Homo sapiens: one gene and its partners. The protein of the gene in region 2 purifies or fractionates together with the protein of the main gene of each other region. This does not show direct contact. Each region holds a gene or a part of one and is shown on either strand. Other genes may lie near its edges.

Region 1 (7,090 bases), 4.5 Mb from region 2:
CCCAGCTACTTGAGAGGCTGAAGTGGGAGGGTCCCTTATGCCCCAGAAGTTGAGGTTGCAGTGAGCGGTGATTGCCCCACTGCACTCCAGCCTGACTGACACACCAAGACTGCGTCCCCCCCCCGCCCCCAAAAAAGGCTAGTAAGATACAAGAGATAATCTTAAATATACCTGTGAAGTCCTAGGAACTGTTAGTCTGATTTATTTAGGAGCCGAAGTAAAAATAATCTCTTTTGACAAATACAGAAAGCTTCCTCAAGTGATCGTTGACACTCCGGTGTGATTATTTCAAAGTACAGCAGTGGTACAATATTCTTCTCTAGAAGTTCATCTTAAAATTATTAGAAAGTCAATAGGGGCTGTGCACGAGGCTCGCGCCTGTAATCCCAGCACTTTGGAAGGCTGAGGGATCACTTCAGGCCAGGAGTTCTAGACCAGCCTGGCCAGCATGGCAAAACCCCATCTCTACTAGAAATACAAAAATTAGCAGTGCATGGCTGCATGCACCTGTAATCCCAGTTACTCGGGAGGCTGAGGCAGGAGGATCCCTCGAACCCCGGAGGTGGAGGTTGCAGTGAACAGAGACGGCACCACTGCGCTCCAGTCTGGGCGACAGACTGAGCCTCTGTCTCAAAACAAAAATAAAACAAAAAAAGGAAGTCAATGGGAAAAACTGATTCAACTAACACTTTACCCATAACTTCAAGTCTGTATTCTGATGCTCATAGTCAGGTTAACTGACTCAGATCATTTCAAACCTGTACATTTCACTTCGCATTAGAGCTGGAGAGAGATGTTTAAGGCATAAATTTTAAGACTCATGAAATTACAGGTTATCACAATAAAAATGAATGTCAACTGAAGCCACAAGTAAGCAGTTTGTTTCAGAAAGAGAAAAATACCACTTGCTTGGCACTTCTATTTACAAAAATAAATCCTCCTGTGTTAACAAATAGTTACTTAATACACAAAGGCCCCGACCAACATTACACCCGTTAAAAATATTGTAACTTAACACCATCTATTAGTGCTCCTTTTCTAAGTAAATTTCATGATCTTAAGAGTACCCTAAAATCAGACTAACAAAATCTTTCCTTCTCCAGTGCACTTCTGCCACATCATGACTTCTAAACATTACGGTTAAGAAAATTTTATAGATTACGTTTTAAAATAACATCGTTACTTCTTCATGCACTTCAAGTGAGAATTTTTAACCTAAAAATACATGAAAATTATTTAGTCCACCTTGTAAAGGATGAATGTGGACAACTCTAGACTTCAAAGATGGAGAGATCGAAATAATTTCAGGGGTTAAGAAAACAATGGATACAGAATTTACAAAGTGAAGATCACACACTCACGATGTACAAGAACGAACTGATCACCCGCATGTTTTATTATTCTTTGGAAAAAAACTTTATATATATTAAAAACAAAAATAACTTTCTGCAAAGTGCTATCGTGCATGAAAACACACATCCCACTTATCATTTCCAGCAAACACTGTTCCCAAACTTAAGATCGGCTCTCGTTTCTGAAAATCAACACTTTACTTCCAAGAGCCACTCAACACAAAGACCAGTCACCATCTGTTTCCACCAAAGTCAACCTCTATTTTAAAAATCACAGTTGGCCATCACGCCTACCTCTCCGCAAACAAACGCTTGGCACATTCAAGAATCAGCGATTTTTTTTTTTTTTTTTTTGCTGTCGCCCAGGCTGGAGTGCAGTGGCGCGATCTCGACTCACTGCAACCAGCCTCCACCTCCTGGGCTCAAGCGATCCTCCCGCCTCAGCCTCCCGAATAGCTGGGATTACAGGCACCCGCCGTCACACCCTGCTAATTAAAAAAAATTTTTTGTGTGTGGAGACGGGGCCTCACTATGTTGCCCAGGCTGGTCTCTAACTCCTGGGCTCAAGCAATCCTCCCGCTTCAGCCTCCCGAGTAGCTGTGGCCACAGGCGTGAGCCACCACGCCCGGCTTGAGTTAGTGATTTCTGAGGTGCCCCGTTCACCTGACAAAAATTCTGCATTTATTAACAAGTTCATTAATACGCACGACATTCTGGTTAATTTTAGTTGCATTTTCAGAAACTGGTCTGAAAATGGTCCTTTTCGGACGTCGCTCTCGCTAGTCCACTCGGGAAATGCTAGAGTGGCAGGAACTCCCCAGTGGAGCGCAGGCGACCCCGACCAACCTCCTGCTTGGCTCAGGGGGCTACGTTTCCCCGCCCGTCCGCACCCGAGCCCCCCACGCCCGGGATCTGGGCAGCCGGCCGGGGGCGTGAGGCGGAGGTGGAAGGGGCAGGCGAGGGCAGCCCAACGCCCCGGGCCCTGAACCGATGGGCCGGCCGCCTAGGTGGACGCCGGAGCCGGACCCACAGCCCCGCAGGCCCCCGGTGGGCCGCGCCGGGCCAGGGGCGGACGGGACCGGGGCGGGCAGGAAAGCGGCGGCCCGTCCCAGCCCCGCGCTCCCGCACTCGCCCCCGCGGCGCCCTCACCTTCTCGCACAGCGTCCGCACTTGGTTCTCGTTCAGCTGCTTACACTCGTTCAGCTGCTCGACCCACTGGTCCAGCTCCTTGGTGAACGCCTTGTCGTCCATGGCGGCCCGATCCCGATGCGGATCCCGAGCCCCAGCCCGGCCGCCGCCCTCCCCCCTCCCCACCCGCCCCCGGCCCCGGCCCGGGCGCCGCTCCCCTCTCCCTCCGCCGCCGTCGCCAGGTCCCACAGGGGGAGGACTGAGCCGGGTAGGGCGGCCGCGGGCCCCGCGCCCCGCCCAAGCCCAGCAGGCGGCTCCGAGCGCGCAGCCTGGAGGAGACCCCCGCCCGCCCTTCCCCGCCCGGCCGCGCGCCGCGGGAGTCGGTGAAGGACGCGGTGAGGTGCCGGGGAGCGCGGCGCGGGTCCTCGGCCTAGCTCTCGCCGGACGAAGGCCGCCCGCTGCCGCTTCAGGCCCGCCTCACGCCTACCGGCCTCTCCCGACTTGTCTTTCCCCTTCTCTCGCTCTTTCTCTCCCCTCCCTCCGGGTTTCCGTCATCGCTCGGGCATTTCCGCCGGGAAAAGGCGAGCAGGCGGCGCCGCCGGGACACGGCGCCCTAGGAGCAGAACAGCGCCCTCGCGTGGCTTGGCGGAGAAACGGTCCGAGGAGGCCAGGGTCCCTCTTTTCCCCACCCTGCCCCAGACCAAGCTCTGCTGGTTCTCCCTTTAAATATCCTGATCTCTGGGAACTTTGTCCTCACTTTAGCTTCCTGCAGTACTTTGCAGCGCTCTGGACAGGGAGTTGGAAAACTTGGGCTTCCCTTAACATTGTCTCCCCAGAGTCTAGCACTCAATAGCAGGCATTCAATATTGATGGAGTAAATTAATTATTTCCAGCCTCACCTGTAGCCCCTAACATCTCGAATCCTCCCTTTCGACATTAGAAAAGTGAAATGATTGTTCTGTAGGATAATCTGTGGCCCTTCCAGCTCCAGAGCTCTTGGCTATATTTTCTGCAATGTGTACTGAGTTGTAATGATTTGTTCATTCAACAAATATTTATTGAGAGACAGAACAGGGACCCCTCTTAGGGGCCATCTAGGCACCCCCCTCCCCAAGCATGGAAATAAAGGAAAATCTTGAGTTCCCTGAAGGGACATTCCAGGCACCTAACTTCCTCAATAAGTCAATGAGCAACCTGATAAGCAAGAAGGTAATAATAGCTTAAGACAGTAGCCAAGGACGTTAGATTCACAAAATGTTTGCTTCCCTATAGAAACTAAAGACGACATATGTCCCTGAGTTGTTTTTCAGAAACCTGGACCTCACCAAATGGAAAATGGTGTCCACTGGCATGGAGATCTCAAACTACCTATCTTTGTTCTAAATTTCTTCCTGAGGAGCCTGGAAGAATTCACAAAGCTTTGCCTCCTTAACCAATTGCAAATCAGAAAATCTTTGAATCCATCTATGACCTGTGGGTCCCTGCTTCAGATATCCTGGCTTTTTAGATCAAACCCACGTATAGCCTCCATGTATTGATTTATGACTTTGCCTGTAACCTCTGCCTCCCTGCCTTTAAAAATCCTTACCTGGGCTGGGCGCAGTGGCTCATGCCTGTAATCCCAGCACTTTGGGAGGCCGAGGCCAGGAGTTGGAGACCAGCCTGCCAACATGGTGAAACCCCTTCTCTACTAAAAATACAAAAACTAGCTGGGCATGGTGGTGGGCGCCTGTAATCCCGGCTACTTGGGAGGCTGAGGCAGATGAATCACTTGAAATCGGGAGGTGGAGGTTGCAGTGAGCCGAAATCTCGCCATTGCACTCCAGCATGGGTGACAAGAGTGAAACTCTGTTTCAAAAAAAAAAAAAAAAGCACACAAAAAACCCCTTACCTGTAAACCATCAGGGAGTTGGGGTCTTAAGCATGAGCTGCCTGATTCTTCTTGCTTGGTGCAATGCAATAAATGCCTCACTTTCACTACAAACCCCAATGTCAGTGTTTGGCTTTGCCGTACTTGAGGGAGGACCTAAATTCAGTTAGGTAACATGAGCAGCTGCTAGCTGCCAGATACCTTGAATAGCATGTGCTAAATGATCATACTGTGTCTATTAAAGGTACATACTACTGCGGCTGAACCCAAGTGGAAGGTAACATCCTGTATCAGAAAGCAAGGGTTCTTGTGTTTGCTAACCCCCTAGCTATGTCCTTGGGCAATCATCAAACCTCCGTAAGCCTCAAATTCTTCATCTGTTAAAATCAATAAAAGGCCTACCTTTGTGAAGATTAAGTTTTAAAAGTGCCTGCCCAATAGTACGGTATGGGAGCGATATGTTAGTTGCCTTACCCCTCCTAGGGAACAATTACAGAAAGCTTTAGAAAAGCGGTAATTGAACTGAATTTTCAACCTTCTCTCAAGGCAAAAGCTTGAAGTTGCCTGGAGAAGAGGAAAGAAGGTCTAAGGAATTTTTTTGTGCGTGTGCCAGTAGACAAATGAGTGAAAGACCATTCATTGTCTGTTTGGAAAGCTATAAATTCTCCTAGCAACAGAAATAGATTATATTGTTGGAAATAAGGCTGGAAGAGCTCCTGCTCTCAACAGCTTGTAAATAGCAGCAAACCAGTTGAACAAAACACAAAAGGTGATGAAACAATACTGGTGAGATATCATTGCAATAGATATTACATTCTCTGAGGAGGTTAGTCTATAAGGCTTTAAAGGAGGCTGGGCCAGGTGCAGTGGCTCACACCTGTAATCCTAGCCCTTAGGAGGCTGAGGTGGGAGGATCACTTGAGCTCAGGAGTTCAAGACCAGCCTGGGCAATATGGTGAAACCCTGTCTCTACGGAAAATTAGCCGGGCATGGTGGCGCATGCCTGTAGTCCCAGCTACTCAGGAGGCTGAGGTGGGAGGATCATTTGAGCCCAGGAGGCGGAAGTTGCAGTGAGCCAAGATTGCACCACCGTAACTCCAGCCTGGGCAACAAGTGAGATCCTGTCTCAATACATACATAAAAAAGGAAGCTGATTTTCGGCTAAGCTTGGAAAGCTCGGAACAAAAGTGAGAATGAGAATATGTTCAGGGTTCCTAGAGAAGATGGACTGAAAACAAAATATACCCTGAGGGCAAGTGGGAACTGTGGATGGTAGTTAGGGAGGGAGGTCCTTGAAATAGAAGCAAATGTGTTTGAAATGAATGTGAGAGAATATTCTTAGAGGTGAGTAGGTGTTTGTGAAAATAGTACTTCTAAGAAGTTTAGTCAAGTAGTGATGTAGAACAAAGAAGAATACTTTCTTTGAGTAGTTCCTATATACTAATGTTTTTACATGTAGCTTCTCATTTAATGCTCCAGTAACCTCATGAGGCTGGTGTTATTATACTTTCCATATTACAGATGAAAAGAAAGACAGGTAGAGGTTTAAATACATGTTCAAGTCACACAGATAGTACTGGTGGGGTACAGATTAACACTCACATATGAGTTCTACTCCATGCTTTATGTTCTATGGTCCCTGCAGTGTGGATGGGAACATGGAAAGCCCAAGAATGGTAGATTGGCCAAGGGGCTTGATGACTTACAATATCAGTTTTTGCTATTTTGGTTGTGACGGTCTCTTAATTATAAATAAGAACAATAATTCTTTTTTTTTTTTTTTTTTGAGATAGGGTCTCACTCTGCCACCCAGACTGGAGCACAGTGGTACGATCTTGGCTCACTGCAACCTCCACCTCCCAGGCTCAAGCGATTCTCCTGCCTCAGCCTCCCAAGTAGCTGGGATTACAGGTGCATGCCACTACCACCCGGCTAATTTTTGTATTTTTAGTAAAGACAGGGTTTCAACATGTGGGCCAGTCTGGAAGAACAATAATTCTTAAACTTATTTCTTTTTTGCTTTCTGCTTCTGTCAGACGTGTGTGTTTGTGTGTGTGTCTGTGTGTGTGTGTTCTCCTTCAGAACATAACCATCAACCTCCAATCCTTGCTAAATTACTTGTCATGCCAAACTGCATTTAATCTTAGGTTTATAGGCCAGATCTAATTTTCTTTTTTGACCTAGAGGTTTTCTTATTGTTATTCTGTTTACCTCTCTCCTTTTGGTTAAATAATTAAAAAGAAATCTTCCACAGATTATTTGCCTTAAAAGTACATGTGAGATTTTCTTCCTACTTAATTGACTAGGCTCTTTTAAAATATATAAACATTGATATTTTTCCTAATGTATTATATACCATTTAAAATATGAAATATGAATCATTTATATCTTGTAATGTATCCACATAATTATATGCTACAATTATACATTGTATGGGTCTAAAAATGATTCTCCTATATCACTGTAATCCTCAAATGATTAAAGAAATACTTTCATTTCCAGTTCAAATACCTTCTGATACTTAGAATGTGAATATGATATTATCAAAATTGTCACAGGGAATTCTGCATAAGAATATCTATTGATAATGATTACAAAAATTAAAATTAATATAGAAAAAATCAAATTGGAAATGCTTTCTTTGCATTTAAAAACAACAAATCATGATCAATAAAAAGATCATAGTTCTCATCCTCTATTCTCACCCTTCTGCCCAAAAACGTAGTTCTAAAAAACCTTT
Region 2 (7,025 bases):
GTTCCTTCAAGCATTTTAATTCTCTTTCTCTTTAATCTTCTTTTGCTCCTCTGAATTCTCATTAATTCCTCTACATTGCAGAAAACATGAAACTGACCTGTCAACCATGAGTGTTACATATATGAATAATGTAAAGTTCACTCATAAATAGGGTGTGTCTTAACAACTTCTTGATAAGTTTTTTAGGGTCTTACATAAAGCTGCATTCCCACAAAGGAAACGGCAGCGTGGTTTTCCCTGCTCATACCTCTCATACCTTCTGCTTGTGGTGAGAGGAACTCTGTTCTTCTGCAGTTTCTCCAATGCTTTAGTTATTAGTGTTGATAATTCAGGGGAACACCACAGTGTGGTCGTTTTGGAAGGAACAGATCTTGAGAATCTAATAACGTCTCCACTGAAAACTGTGTTTTTACATAATCTCACATACAGTTTTATGGAGTTTGATTATTCTCACATACTTTGTCTTATGGGCCAAAAACTCCAGGTAATAAAATATCACTGCTGTAGAACATAAGGATTCTGATTTTTTAAAAATTTATGTCATATTTATTAACATACTGATTTATTTCCTGCCTGCCTTGTCCCCACCTTACTGAAAAATGTATCCTAATTCATATGTGTCCTGTGTTTGTGTTAAGGAAAAAACATTTTTTAAAGAGCTTTCTTCCTGTAAACACTATTAGGCACCACAAACTAATTTTATCTCATCTGAAAGTTTCATAAATACATTGTGGTTTCTTTATTTGGATCTTTAATAAGGAGGATGGATTTAAACAGGCCACAAGACAACTGGACCAGGGGGCGGGGGTGTTGTCATCCTCATCACAAATACTTTGCAAGTATTTAGAACAAATACTTCTCAGAATACAGATTTAGGCTAGGCTCATATCTATCTATAAATCATATACATATATAAACTAAATAACACATAGAAAATCTGTATGACTGAACTACAAGAAAATTATAAGCAAGGTCACATAGGGCTTAGAAGAAATAATAGATTACAGATGATTAAAGTTAGCAGTTTTTCTCTGTTTACACTTCATCATTGGGAAGGGCATCCTTAGGGGCAACTATCATTCTTCTGTACGATACAGAGACTGCCAGGCTAGAGTCACTGGCATCTCTCTGAGTTGTTTCTGTTTTTATAAAATGGCTTTATATACTGTTATAAACAATTTTGTTACACCATTTTGCTTATGAAAGATCGTTAGGAATGTATGCTTTTCTATAAGAAAAACTGTTATACAATTGTAACAGTTTTAAATCAACATGCATGAGCCTATAGTGATACAAATAAACAATTGAATGGATACATGGAGAGCAGGGATGCTTCCTGCAGGAGAATTCTAAATAAGACGTGGATACATACTCTTCCCTACAGGGAGTATAACTTATTTCTCCCTTTAAGTACAGGCTGGATTTAGTGACTCACTTCCAAAGAACAGAATATGGCAAGGGTGAAAGAGTCATTGTATAGTGGAGAAGCCTGGCAAACATTGTCTTAACCAAATGACCCAAGTTAACGCCACCAGCTGTAAGTCATGTTGATACCATGTATCCCTTTGAACAATGCTGTGAGAAGTCACTTCATCTCTCTGTTCTGTTCCTAAAAACCCATGGTCCCAGTCTGATCATGAGGAAAGAGCAAGCAAATCCAGTTGAGGGATATTCTACAAAGTACCTCACCACCACTACTCAAAACTGTCAAGATCAAGAAAAATAAGGAGAGCCTGAGAAACTTAAAGGCAGAGAGACTAAGGAAACTTGATGACTAAATGCAGTGTTGTTTGAATTCTGGAGCAGAAAAGGAATGTTAGTGGAAAACCTGGTTAAATCTCCAAATGCAGTCTGTAGTTAATAGTAATATACAAAGTCGACGTCTTAGTTTTGACACACGTACCATGGTTGCGTAAGATGTTGACAGAAGAAACTGGGTAAAGGATATATGGAACACTGCAATTCTTGTAACTTTCTGTAAATCTAAACTTAATTGTAAAACAAAAGTTTGTTTTTAAACAGATGCCATTTTATATATCCTTGATACCTAGGAATTTGGTTTCTTCTTGAAGGACTTGGGGATGTATGCTTTTAATCAGTTTTCTTCAGGCCCTGTTTCCTACTTGTGAACCCTGATACAAGAAGGGGAAAGGTTTTAAAAAGGAGGCATCCAGTCCTATGGAGGCCTCTGTGGAATCTTTGATAGGCTCTGCTAAGAAGTGGGAGCAAGGGAGAGCAGCTTTACTATTTTGATTCTACATAATAGGCAGTCTTAATCAACTTCATTGTTCCCTTTAAATTTTTTAAAATTCAGTACTGAACATGTATATGTTTACATGTAGGTACAGACATATATGTGTTTGCATACACCACACATGCATATCAAGTTTTTCCCTCTAGCTTTAATTACTTTTAAGGGACAGGGATAGAGACCTGTCTGTGACTTGATTTGACTATCACATGGAATTTATGAGTGCCACCAATCTTTGCACTTTATTTCCATGTGTGTATGTTATTCAGCTGATAATAGGAAATTTTTTAGTAAGTTCAGATTAGGGTTTTTTTTTTTTTCGTGGAATCCTTTTACGTGAAATGTGAAATAGCATATTTTAAATGCCTTAAAATGTTTTTCTTCTTCAGTATTTTAAGGACTTTTCTTTATTTTCTTCCCAGATAAAACAATAAAATTATGGAAAATCAGTGAAAGGGACAAAAGACCAGAAGGGTATAACTTGAAAGAGGAGGATGGAAGGTATAGAGATCCTACTACAGTTACTACACTACGAGTAAGTACATAAGAAAAAAATGTCACAGATAGTGCTTGTATTCATATTATATAGCCCAAATCCTGAGCAGAGCTTGAATAGGAATAATTACAGTCTATCTCCCCTTTCCCAGTAATTCTGTAATCAGGTAGGACATTGAGTAACTCATTTAAACATAGAAACTGACCTACATAGAGGTCTCACTTTGGCCAGGGACAGAAGCAGGACTCAAGCACAAGACAGTATTTCACGCCATCAGACTTCATCTCTGGTTTGTCATGTTAGCTATCACAAGGTCAAGTTTCAAGATAAATTTTCTTTGGAAATCAAAAAAGTAGATACAGATCAAATCTTCTAGTTGTAGCTAAAAAATACCAAGAATTAGATGTTATGGGTTAATTTTCTTTTTAGCCTCTTTAATCTGAACCATAAACATTTATTAGCTTGGCATGTCTTTCAAGCAAAATATTGAAACTAAGAACTGCAAATTCTAATAGTATTGCAACCAGTAAAAGAAGATATATTATCCACATTGTTCATTTTTTCTTCAGCACTCGAAAGGATCAACATCAGTTGCTTTTTAAAACTAAATCTATGTAATATTGTTCTATTTTATGTTCTCAAAAACTGAAATAATGAAGTTTTCTGAATCTTAATTGCTATTTGAAACTGAGCCTTTTGTAATTTCTGTTTTTCATGTGTCTTATTGACAGGTGCCAGTCTTTAGGCCTATGGATCTAATGGTTGAGGCCAGTCCACGAAGAATATTTGCCAATGCTCATACATATCACATCAACTCAATTTCTATTAATAGTGATTATGAAACATATTTATCTGCAGATGATTTGCGGATTAATCTTTGGCATCTGGAAATTACAGACAGGAGTTTTAGTATCCATTTGGTTTTCTTTGGTGTTTGGTGAAGAAGGCATGTTGTGCCCATATTAGATTTATTTCATCTCTCCTAATGAATTTGGTTGCTTTTTATAGTCTGTGTACATATATGTATGGCACCTTATTTTTTTCTTTGTAGATGAGTAATGAAATACTGGAAAAAGTTATTTGCTAAACATAAAGGGCATAATGTATTGATTTAAAATTGGATTCATGGAATTTTAAGGAATTTGTCTATTGTATCTATGTAAATAGGATTATTTTTTATAATTTAGGTTTTTGTTTTAAAAATCACATTTGTGAGGTCTGTGTATGGTAGCTTATGCCTGTAATCCCAGCGGTTTGGGAGGCTGAGGTGGGAAGATCACTTGAGGCCAGGAGTTCAAGGTTTACAGTGAGCTTGATTGTGCCTCTGCACTCCAGCTTGGATGACAGAGCAACACCCTGTCTCTAAAAAAATTTTTTTTCTTCTAATCAAATGTATGAACTACTGTATTTGAATTTTTTATTGTAAAAATAGTCTCACCTGGCTGCGGTGACTCAGCCTGTAATCCCAGCACTTTGGGAGGTCAAGGTGGGTGGATCACCTAAGGTCAGTAGTTCAAAACCAGCCTGGCCAACATAGTGAAACCCCGTCTCTCCTAAAAATACAAAACATTAGCCGGGCATGGTGGCGCATGCCTGTAATCTAAGCTACATGGGAGGCTGAGTTAGGAGAATTGCTTGAACCTGGGAGATAGAGGTTGCAGTGAGCTGAGATTGTGCCATTGCACTCCAGCCTGGGCAACAAGAGTGAAACTCTGTCTCAAAAAATATATATATATAGATTTATATATATTATATTAATTGATATTAAGATTAGATTAAGATTAGATTAAGATTAATCTTAAGATTAGATTAAGATTAATTTTAAGATTAGAAAAAGATTAATAATTAGATTAGATTAGAAAAAGATTAGAAAAAGAAAGATTAAAGATTACGATTAGATTAAGATTAGAAAAAGAAATTCACGCAAGTCATGATGCATGATTGGGTAAATAAAAATATTCTATTGAGGCCGGGCACAGTGACTCATGCCTGTAATCCCAGCACTTTGGGAGGCTGAGGCGAGGCGGATGGATCATGAGGTCAGGAGGTCGAGACCAGCCTGGCCAACATAGTGAAACCCCGTCTCTACTAAAAATACAAAAAAAAAAAAAAATTAGTCAGTTGTAGTGGTGTGCGCCTGTAATCCCAGCTTTTCTGGAGACTGATGCAGTAGAATCGCTTGAACCTGGGAGTCGGAGGCTGCAGTGAGCCGAGATTGCGCCACTGCACTCCAGCCTGGGTGACAGAGTGAAACTCCGTCTAAATAAAAATTAAAAAAAAAAGTTTTAATCCCTTTGGAATTTATACTCATAAAAACAGTGGAGTGCAATTCAGAATTAATATTTTTGCTTAGGTCCATGAATGGGTTTTAGGTTTGAGAAATGTAGAATTATATTTGCCCTTTTTTCTAAGTGGAAATTCCTTAATAAAATGTTATCTAGACATTGTGGATATCAAGCCTGCCAATATGGAAGAGCTAACAGAGGTGATTACAGCAGCAGAATTTCATCCAAACAGCTGTAACACATTTGTATACAGCAGCAGTAAAGGAACTATTCGGCTATGTGACATGAGGGCATCTGCCCTCTGTGATAGACATTCTAAATGTAAGTTTATTGTATCTTTCCTTAAAATGATTACATATTCTGTTTGTCTGAAATAAGCCTCAGACATGATAAGTACAATTACAGAGGTTCAAAGTCTTAAACCCGTGTGTCCAGAGCCACTTGTACCCTTGGTAATCTGCCTACCTCCTCATGAGGCATTCCAGGTTATTCCTGGAAGCTCTCTTGGGGGGCATGTCTATTGATTGCCAAGGAATATATCTCTCATGGAATGCTGTTGTTCTTTGGTAACTTGCGGTTGGGCTCTGTAACCTTGTATTGAAGTAGAGCTGTTCCTTTCTTTCCCATCCTCCCTTCCTACTTTGAGCTTCCTAGGAAGATTTCTTCTGAGGTTTCCTTGGCTTAAAAAAAAAAAAAAAAAAACAACTTTGGTTTAAAAACTTCAGGATACAATATTCTTGTCTTGTTGAATATTAACTCATGAAAATTGATACATGCCTGTTACCAAAATAATTTTACCTGGCTACTAGAAAATAAGATCCTGGTATGAATTTGGGATGGGCGAGGATGGTGTGTTTCTCATGGTGATGATACAGGCAGTCAGTGAGGCATATTGCAGGAATAATACCAATAAACCTGGTGCACTGAAGTCAGAAGTCCCAGGTGAGTCTGGTTCTAAATTAGTCATATGACTGGAAGTATACTGCATACTTATGCATCTTCAACTTCAATATTCAATTAAACTAAGAAGCTTTCAGGAGAATTCTAGCCAGAGAGATGTTTTTCAGTTCTTTATTAGCCTGGCATTTTACCTCACTTGTAGGGAGTTTGTGAATGGTTGTTTAGGAAATGCTTTGTCCAAGCCAGAATATTGTACACCTTGCCCTTTTTGTGTTGTTTTGTTTTGTTTTTAGTGTTTGAAGAACCTGAAGATCCCAGTAACAGGTCATTTTTTTCCGAAATCATCTCCTCTATTTCGGATGTAAAATTCAGCCATAGTGGTCGATATATGATGACTAGAGACTATTTGTCAGTCAAAATTTGGGACTTAAATATGGAAAACAGGCCTGTGGAAACATACCAGGTATTTGAGTTTTTTCTTTCAATGAGCATATACCCTGTTTACTTTGAAGTGTTTATAGAGAAGGATTTTGTTACTAGGTTTTAATCCCTGTATGGTGTTTGTTCACCATTAGGCCTTTTCCCTCAGAGATCTATGAGTATGTTGCTCTTCCTTATGTTAAATGTATATATACTTACATAGGTTGTGTTGTCTCTTGAGTTTTGCAGTTAAAGTGTGATTTTGCTACCCATTTGGTTCAGTATTGACATTGTTTTTTTTTCTGCCACTATGTACATTTAAAGTGAGGATGGAAGAGCACCCTTCATTGAGGTCTGGGCAGGAAGAGGATTGGAGAAAGTGGCCAGTCCTTAGTAGAGGTGCACCTGCTCAGGTTGTGGGAGTAGTTGAACTAGAGATTAAATTTGGTGTGCCAAGTCAAATGGACTGGTGTTCTGCCTTTTGGCAGATAACTGTTGTCTTCAGCTAAAAGAAAGGGCTTGAAAGCCTTAGCAGATGGCTTTAGGAGTTGCCTATCCGTTGTTGGATGTCAGTTCTTGATTCTCTTATCAGCCAGCCACTACTGTTTATCCGTGTCCACTACATCAAACAGAAGAGAATGAAGTACACAGCCTGGAACAGGGTGAGGGACAG
Region 3 (7,081 bases), on a different chromosome or scaffold from region 2:
AGTCAAGAGACCCAAGTCCTAGTCCTTAACGGCCCTACCGCTAAGCTTCTAGGGTACCTTAGGAATATCTGAGTCTCAGTTCCCTCATTTATTAATACATTCCCTTATAGAATACAGAACTCTCTGAATATTGGGTTCCTCAACTACATGAAGTGGTGAAATGAGACCATGTCTATGCTTTCTCTCAGCTTTATGATTCTAAGGAGAAAGAGAATCTATATTATTACTACCATGAGACTTAGATGAAGCCTGCTTATATACCAATAAAGTAGAAAAGAAAGATACGGGAAAATAAGCCATTTGAGGACCACACAAATATTCGCCAATATATGCTCTTCTCTTCACAATACTATCATAAAGAAAGGCCTTTCTAAAGAACTTTCTTTTCCAGGATAAGCAGTTAACCTAAACCAAGAAGACCAAAGCATCTTTTTAAAAAGGTAAGTTGTCCAGGCACAGTAGCTCACTCCTATAATCCCAGTACTTTGGGAAGCCAAGTGGGGCAGATCACTTAAGGCCAGGAGTTTAAGACCAGCCTGGCCAACATGGCGAAATCCCCTCTCTACTAAAAATACAAAAATTAGCCGGGCGTGGTGGTGCATGCCTGTAATCCCAGCTACTTGGGAGGCTGAGGCACAAGAATCACTTGAGCCCGGGAGGTGGAAGTTGCAGTGAGCCGAGATTGTGCCACTGCACTCTAGCCTGGGCAACAGAGTGAGACTCTGTCTCTAAAAAAAAATAAAATGAAAAGTAATAAAAAATAAAAACGATAAATTACTAACAATTATACAATCTTCTAATCAGCAGATTTTCCTTTTTTTTTCTCTCAGTATCTTCATTCAGTTCTTCAATCTTCAGAGAACTTGTTTCTCCAAGATGAGAAGCTGAGCTCTAATTAAGCTTATCTAAGGAATGTATAATTATTAAAAATCTGATTTTCTTATGTATTTGTATAGAAGGGTGCTGGTATACTGAAAAATCAAATTTATTTTAAGAAAGGCAGCAACTAAGATATTTAACAACAATTAATGTTACATTAATATTAAACTCCAGGTTAGTTTTCCCAAATAATGTTATGGGTCAGTTTCCAAATTCTCTTTATTCATGTTATAGTCCAACTTTTCTGTCTTCCAAAGCCAAAACAATCTTCACTTTACCTTCTATGTAGCCTTCTACCTCTATTGTGCGTCTATCTCTCTATCTCCTCCTGCTAAAGTTTTCTCATTTTTCTACTGCGTATCATAGCAGGTCTCCACTCAATTCTTAGTTTCCTTCCCTGGTTTTTCCACCCATTTTTCCCATTCCTTTACCCCACTGTTTTATAGGATTCTCCTTTCTTTTCATCCCTAGGACTTACTGTCACAGTACTGCATCTCCTACTCTCGCCTCCTTTTTGATAAGTTTTTACACATATTACTTCTTCAGAACCTAAGGTTTCTCTTCTGTAGTCCTTTTTCAAAGAATATCTACCAATTCATCTCTAGAATCCCAAATATACTCTGGAGCCCTCATACCTAAGTATCTTTCCTACTCCTTTTCTCTTTACAGTCACTAATTCCCAGAATCCTGTTTGAAACTACAAATATCCCCTCAAAACCAAATGCCTATTCAATTCTCTCCACTTTCCAGCAATTACTTCTCCCATGTTCACCTCATTCTTTCTCCTCGGCCCAAGTATCCCCTAACCTGGCACAAGCCATTTAACGATCTAAAATTCCAAAACCTATCTCTTCTACATGGCTCTCCTTCCTTTCCAGCAAACTATTTCTCGAACTCCCAATGCTTCACTAATTCAAAGTCTTAGGCCAGTACGTCGCTTCCCTCAGATCTACTAGCCCAGCAAAAACTGATTGCCCAAATCTTCCTCTAAGCTTCCCAGACCTTACAACTGCAGCACTTCCATTCACCAAACCGTATTTATAGTCATCTCTCAATCTTTAGAGCCTATGGTCACTCTGTAAATTCTTCAGTTCTCTCCTTCTTCTCTCTCCCTTATCCTGTCCAGCTTCTCACTCTGTAAATTCTTCAGTCCTCTCCTTCTTCTCTCTCCCTTATCCTGTCCAGCTTCTCAGCACATTCCTACTACCCTTAACAATCTTCGTGGCTATGTTCTCCACCTTACCTTAGGCCTACTCCCTAAACTTTCTCATTCTCCCTTAAGAGACCTAATCTCACCTCTCATTCGCTGAATCTGTCTTTACACCTCTGGGAATTCTCTAGAATCGTCTGCTTCCTAGTTCTCCTCTTTCCTTCTCCAGCCCTGTCTCGAGTGTTTTCTACCCCCCTCAGCTTTTCTAGTATCTAGTTCTCACAGTGCAGATATTAGAACTCTGATAATATCTACTCCTCCCAAACCTTTCCTTAGTTGTTGGCCCAATTCCCCTCAACTTTTCTCTCAGTCATTCCCCACTTCCCTCCACCTTCCCTGGCCGATTCTCCTCCACCTTTGTCACCGTTCTACTCCCTTTTCTAAGCCTCCTTTATTGTGGAAGTGATTCTCAGATCCCTTATGTTAGTCTCTCAGCTTCCCCAACCTTTGCCTCATTCCCCTCTCCCTTCAACAACGTTATTTTTCCTCCAATTTCTATTGACTTGGCGCCTCCCCTAGTACCCCAATCTGCCTTCTACTCCATCTAAATATCTCCAGGCCGCCAACATTTTCTCCTATCAGTAGACTCCTTTCCCGTGCCTCTATGAACGCCCAGAGATACCATTCTCCAACGGCTGGGGCCTGGCCCATAGGGAGAAGGGGTATGGGTCACGTACCCCATTCGCATCTTGGCTCCGCTCTGACTGCCCCCGCTGCCGGGTAGAGGTGGGCGAGAGGGAAGGCGGCCGAGGTGCATGCTCTTTTCGAGGGCCGACATCGAGGGGAGGCTGCACGCACGTAGTCAAACAGTAGGCGAAGCTTCGTCCCACGTTGAGTGTGGCCCAACCGGTCACGACTCGCTCCCCTAACGACGCCCTGTCGCCTTTGGACAGCACCCAGCTACCCGTAGCACCGCCTACCGCCCACCGGCTCCGTAAACTCCACCCACTCGCTTCAGCGCTTCCACCGGAAGTGCGCAACAGCACTCATACAAAGGAAGCTGGGTAACAGAGTATGAGAACTCCGCAGACTCCCGGCTGGGAACCCGACGACTTTCACCGGAAGGAGGAGCGCTCTTCAGGGCAATGCACCCTGCGCAATGGAGTCCACAAAGGGCGCATCCCTATGCGCTTGCGCAGCTGGAGGCGCCCCCCAGCCAACCCCGGAGAGGTATTGTAGCAAAGCGTCCTGGGTATTGTAGTGTATTGGAGGGAAGGCGTCTTGGCGCCTTCTCTTCGCACCGTTTTCCGGAGACTGTTAGAGGAAGAGTCGCTTTTTCCTGCCTCCCAGGCTGCCCAGCGGCGCCGGTTGCCGGGGAACGCAGGCGCCGTGGGGAGGGATGGCGGGAGGATACTGCTTAGGTGCTGGAGACGGAGTTGAGCTGGTGAAGAAGAGCTCGGGCTCATCATGAAACAACGAAAAGGCCAAGGGTCTGGGGGCAGCCGTGGGCGCAAAAAAAGAGGTAACCTGAGCGATCAAAGATTGAGGAAAGCGTAATAGGAGAGCAGGGTGTAAGGAATTTTAGGGAGACCCGCACCCCCGCTGGATAAACAAGAAAAGGGACGTAAGAAGGAAGTAGCCAGGGAACCAGAAGGTTAAAAGGAAGGGCAATTGGCCCTCCAGAGAATAGAAAGGAATTAGGGGCTGGGGTAGGGGCCACAGACAGGCGATTAATGAGATGAAGGTTACCGGTAGGATGACTGTAGAGGAGAAGAACAAACAATGATGGGATTGGTTTTGATAACGAAGTGAAATGTATGTGTGTGTGTAGCTTTCGAGGTCCACAGGGACAGGAAGAAACATAAATTGGCAAAGGGATTATATCATTTGTTGTGTGATTGTGGGCAAGAATCACGTTTTATACATTACTGAATGACCAAGGATTAGTACAAAGCAGGACTCGGTAAATGTTAGTTGAATGAATGAAGTATGAAGGGCTGACTATGAGCAGGAGTTGGGAAAAATAATTGTAGAGTATAGAGCCGGGAAGAGTGGGGAATGACAGGTGTGATAGGATTGGAGTGGGGGTAAGGGCATGACGATCTCCTGAAGGACCTGAGATCATGAAAGAGTGTGCAGCAGAGAGTCCTCATCAGGTTAGCAGCTCAAGGAGACACAAGCTCACCGAGTAGGGGATGTTAGCTGCAGTGAGAACAGTCAACCTAGGAACCCAGGGCAGATCAGGAAACTTGACATTGAATCTCTACAAGACTGCCTCGAAGGGAAAAAGGACAGTGGGTGACCCTGCCTTTTTGCATTGTAGGCAGTTTAGCGAGAAAAGAAGTATTGGGAACAGTGATAGGACATTAGGCCATTGGGTTGAGGACTGAAGCTACAATCTGGGAATTACTCTTATCCAAGCTGTTTAAAGATTACTAAGGCAGTTTTGAGATACTGACTTTCCTGCCAGGAAAGATAGGAGGATCTGAGACTGAAGCATACTAGTGCTCCCTGTGTCAAAACAGTTAAGCATGTTTGGTTGATAATCGGAAAGTCAAAGTAGAAATAATATAACATAGCATAGAACAGAATACACTTTTTGCTATACCATTTCCATATGTAGAAATGTATACACAACTGTGTATAATTTTTATGTTGAAACTATCCATAAGGATTATGGTGGGTCTTTTCTCCACTATAGAGGGCAGAGGCGGTGTTTGCATTAGAAGTCCAAATAATTAGTCCTGATCTGATACATTCCATATATTTTCTTCTTTGAGGCATAACCACTCCTCAAAGAAAAGTCAAAGGAAAAAAAAGGTATAAATAATATAGGAATGGTTTCTTAAATCTCCTTTAAGTTTTCCCGAAAAGGTACTATGAATGAAAGACAATCAGGGTCATTAAAGGAAAATTTTTTAGAAAGTCATGATTAATTGCTTTGTTTACACTTTAATGTCTTTATGAAACCCAATAAATACTAAAGCCAATAAATATATGAACCCAGCACTGTGTTAAAAATAGTGGCAGAATCTGAAGATTAGATAGTCTGTGTCCTCACTGACTGTGTGATCTTGGCAGGAAAGAAAAGTTACAATTTAAGACGTTCTTCATTGAAATGCTGAGTTGTATGATATAGTCTAAATCGTTTGTGAGTGAAGGGAGTTGTTGCTGTTTTATCGTTAGTGATTTTTTTAAAAGAGAGTTAGATAAAGATTACATATCTTAAAAACCATAGATGTTGCAATAATTAAAACAACTGTACTTAGAAAAATTTCAACCATACTTAGAAAAATGTCAACTACTTCTGATATTTGTATTTTTCAAATAGTAACTCAACTAAAGAAAAGTTTATATTAGTGTGTCTTTGTTGGTATGTTCTTAACTTAGAGTAAATCAAATCAAACCTTAAATACTAATTAGTTATCAGAGTGGCTTACATGACCAGATAGATTATTCGGTGGTCTGATTTGATAGTTACTTCTCATGTATTAGAATAATGGGTAGGATAAACCTTCTTTCTAAGTGGTGATAAATTGCTGAACTTAAGACTAAAGTGTTCTGTTTGTTTTCATTCAAAAAGCATATTATATGTTTTCTATATTTAGTCTAAATTTTGACTCAGTTTTCTTGGATTCCTCTACAGGTTTAAGTGACATTTCTCCATCTACAAGCCTGCCACCTCTGGTTGAAGGCCAGCTACGCTGTTTTCTAAAACTTACTGTTAATAGAGTCATATGGAAGATTGCAAAGCCTCCCACTTGTGTACTTGTCCGAGTGAGATGGTGGGGAGAAACATCAGATGGAACCCTCTTTTGTCCCAGGGATGCATTGCAGACTGAACCAAAAGCTGTGAGAACAACTACACGTTACGCTATTCGTTGTGGTCCAAAACAGTTTACCTCTTATCTAACAGGTATGTTATTGTTTTATCATTGCACCTGCAGACGTAATACAAAGCATGTGGTTATATTGTCAGCAATAAGTGTTGTTGTGTACCTAGCATATATGGGCATTCTTAATTATTGAAGAGTCAAAGAGTTTTTATAGTAGACATTTTTCTTTGTAAATTTATTGAGTGTTACTGTGTGCCAGCAGTTTTGAAATGTATTACTTCTAATCCTTACAATAACCCTGAAAGATAGGTATTTTCTCTGTTTTATAGACAATTAAACAAGTTGGAGAGATGAAATGAATACTTTCTAAGGTCACAAAGTTGATAAATGGCTGAATTAGGATTTGAACCCACTTCTGTCTGTCACCAAAACTCATGCTCTTTTCACTACACCATGCTTTTTTAGGTAATAACTGTAGTCTCAACTCTGGGGTTTACATTATACTCAAGGAAAGAGGATATAGATGTAAAATTTACCAATAGTACAAGATAATACATACTAAATGCTAAATGAATGGTTTAGTGAGTTAGTATTACAGATGTTCAGAAATGGAAAGCATCCCTCTGTAGGGAACCAGAAGCCAAGATGTCTTCATTTTTGTACAAGAAAAGTATTCTGAGTGTACTATGTTACTTCTTTATTCAGGTCAAGCTTTCACATAAATACATTTTGGATGATGGGGTTATTTATCAAGTCAATTCAGTTCAAGTCAATAAAATTCGAGCATTTATCATGTAAACATGGTTGGGCTCAGAATATTGGAGAGCCAGGGGTGAGTTAAGATTAACTTGTCCTTGAGTAACTTACATTCTCTCGAGAAAAAATTTTTGAAACATCAACATGTAAAGAACAAATGCTGTAATTCAGTCATTCAAAAAATATGTTTAGCACATACTACACATTGTTTTAGGCACCATGGGGTTTACAAAAAATCCAAAAAATTAATAAGAATGATCCCGAACTCTAACTTCACAAAAAAGTTTAGTTATTAATAGTAGGTTAAAAGCAGTAAGTGCGATTAAAAGATATAAATAATCTTGGTACTGTAAGCTTAAAAATTAAATCCTCAGGTAGTATTTTTATATAATATAACAAATGAGGAGTGATTAGAAATTCAATAAGAGAGAAGGTATTTATTAACATGGTAATCAACAGG

What was found. Proteins that work in one complex are often made in the same cells at the same time.
Region 1: the proteins of PPP2R2A (region 2) and PPP2CB purify together in Homo sapiens (affinity purification with mass spectrometry; 10 studies listed by BioGRID and IntAct, with this or other methods). This does not show direct contact.
Region 3: the proteins of PPP2R2A (region 2) and PPME1 purify together in Homo sapiens (affinity purification with mass spectrometry; 3 studies listed by BioGRID and IntAct, with this or other methods). This does not show direct contact.

What each region holds. Positions count from the first base shown.
Region 1 is NC_000008.11:30,809,819-30,816,908, forward strand, and holds the start of PPP2CB (serine/threonine-protein phosphatase 2A catalytic subunit beta isoform), read right to left. Parts: upstream 3,001-7,090; 5' UTR 2,604-3,000; coding exon 2,502-2,603; intron 1-2,501.
Region 2 is NC_000008.11:26,357,496-26,364,520, forward strand, and holds part of PPP2R2A (serine/threonine-protein phosphatase 2A 55 kDa regulatory subunit B alpha isoform), read left to right. Parts: intron 1-2,673; coding exon 2,674-2,786; intron 2,787-3,478; coding exon 3,479-3,656; intron 3,657-5,188; coding exon 5,189-5,353; intron 5,354-6,225; coding exon 6,226-6,395; intron 6,396-7,025. UniProt on the Homo sapiens protein: Substrate-recognition subunit of protein phosphatase 2A (PP2A) that plays a key role in cell cycle by controlling mitosis entry and exit. Involved in chromosome clustering during late mitosis by mediating dephosphorylation of MKI67.
Region 3 is NC_000011.10:74,167,208-74,174,288, reverse strand, and holds the start of PPME1 (protein phosphatase methylesterase 1), read right to left. Parts: upstream 3,001-7,081; 5' UTR 2,868-3,000; coding exon 2,767-2,867; intron 1-2,766. Other genes in the region: C2CD3 (C2 domain-containing protein 3), read left to right, coding at 3,497-3,551, 5,676-5,945. UniProt on the Homo sapiens protein: Demethylates proteins that have been reversibly carboxymethylated. Demethylates PPP2CB (in vitro) and PPP2CA. Binding to PPP2CA displaces the manganese ion and inactivates the enzyme.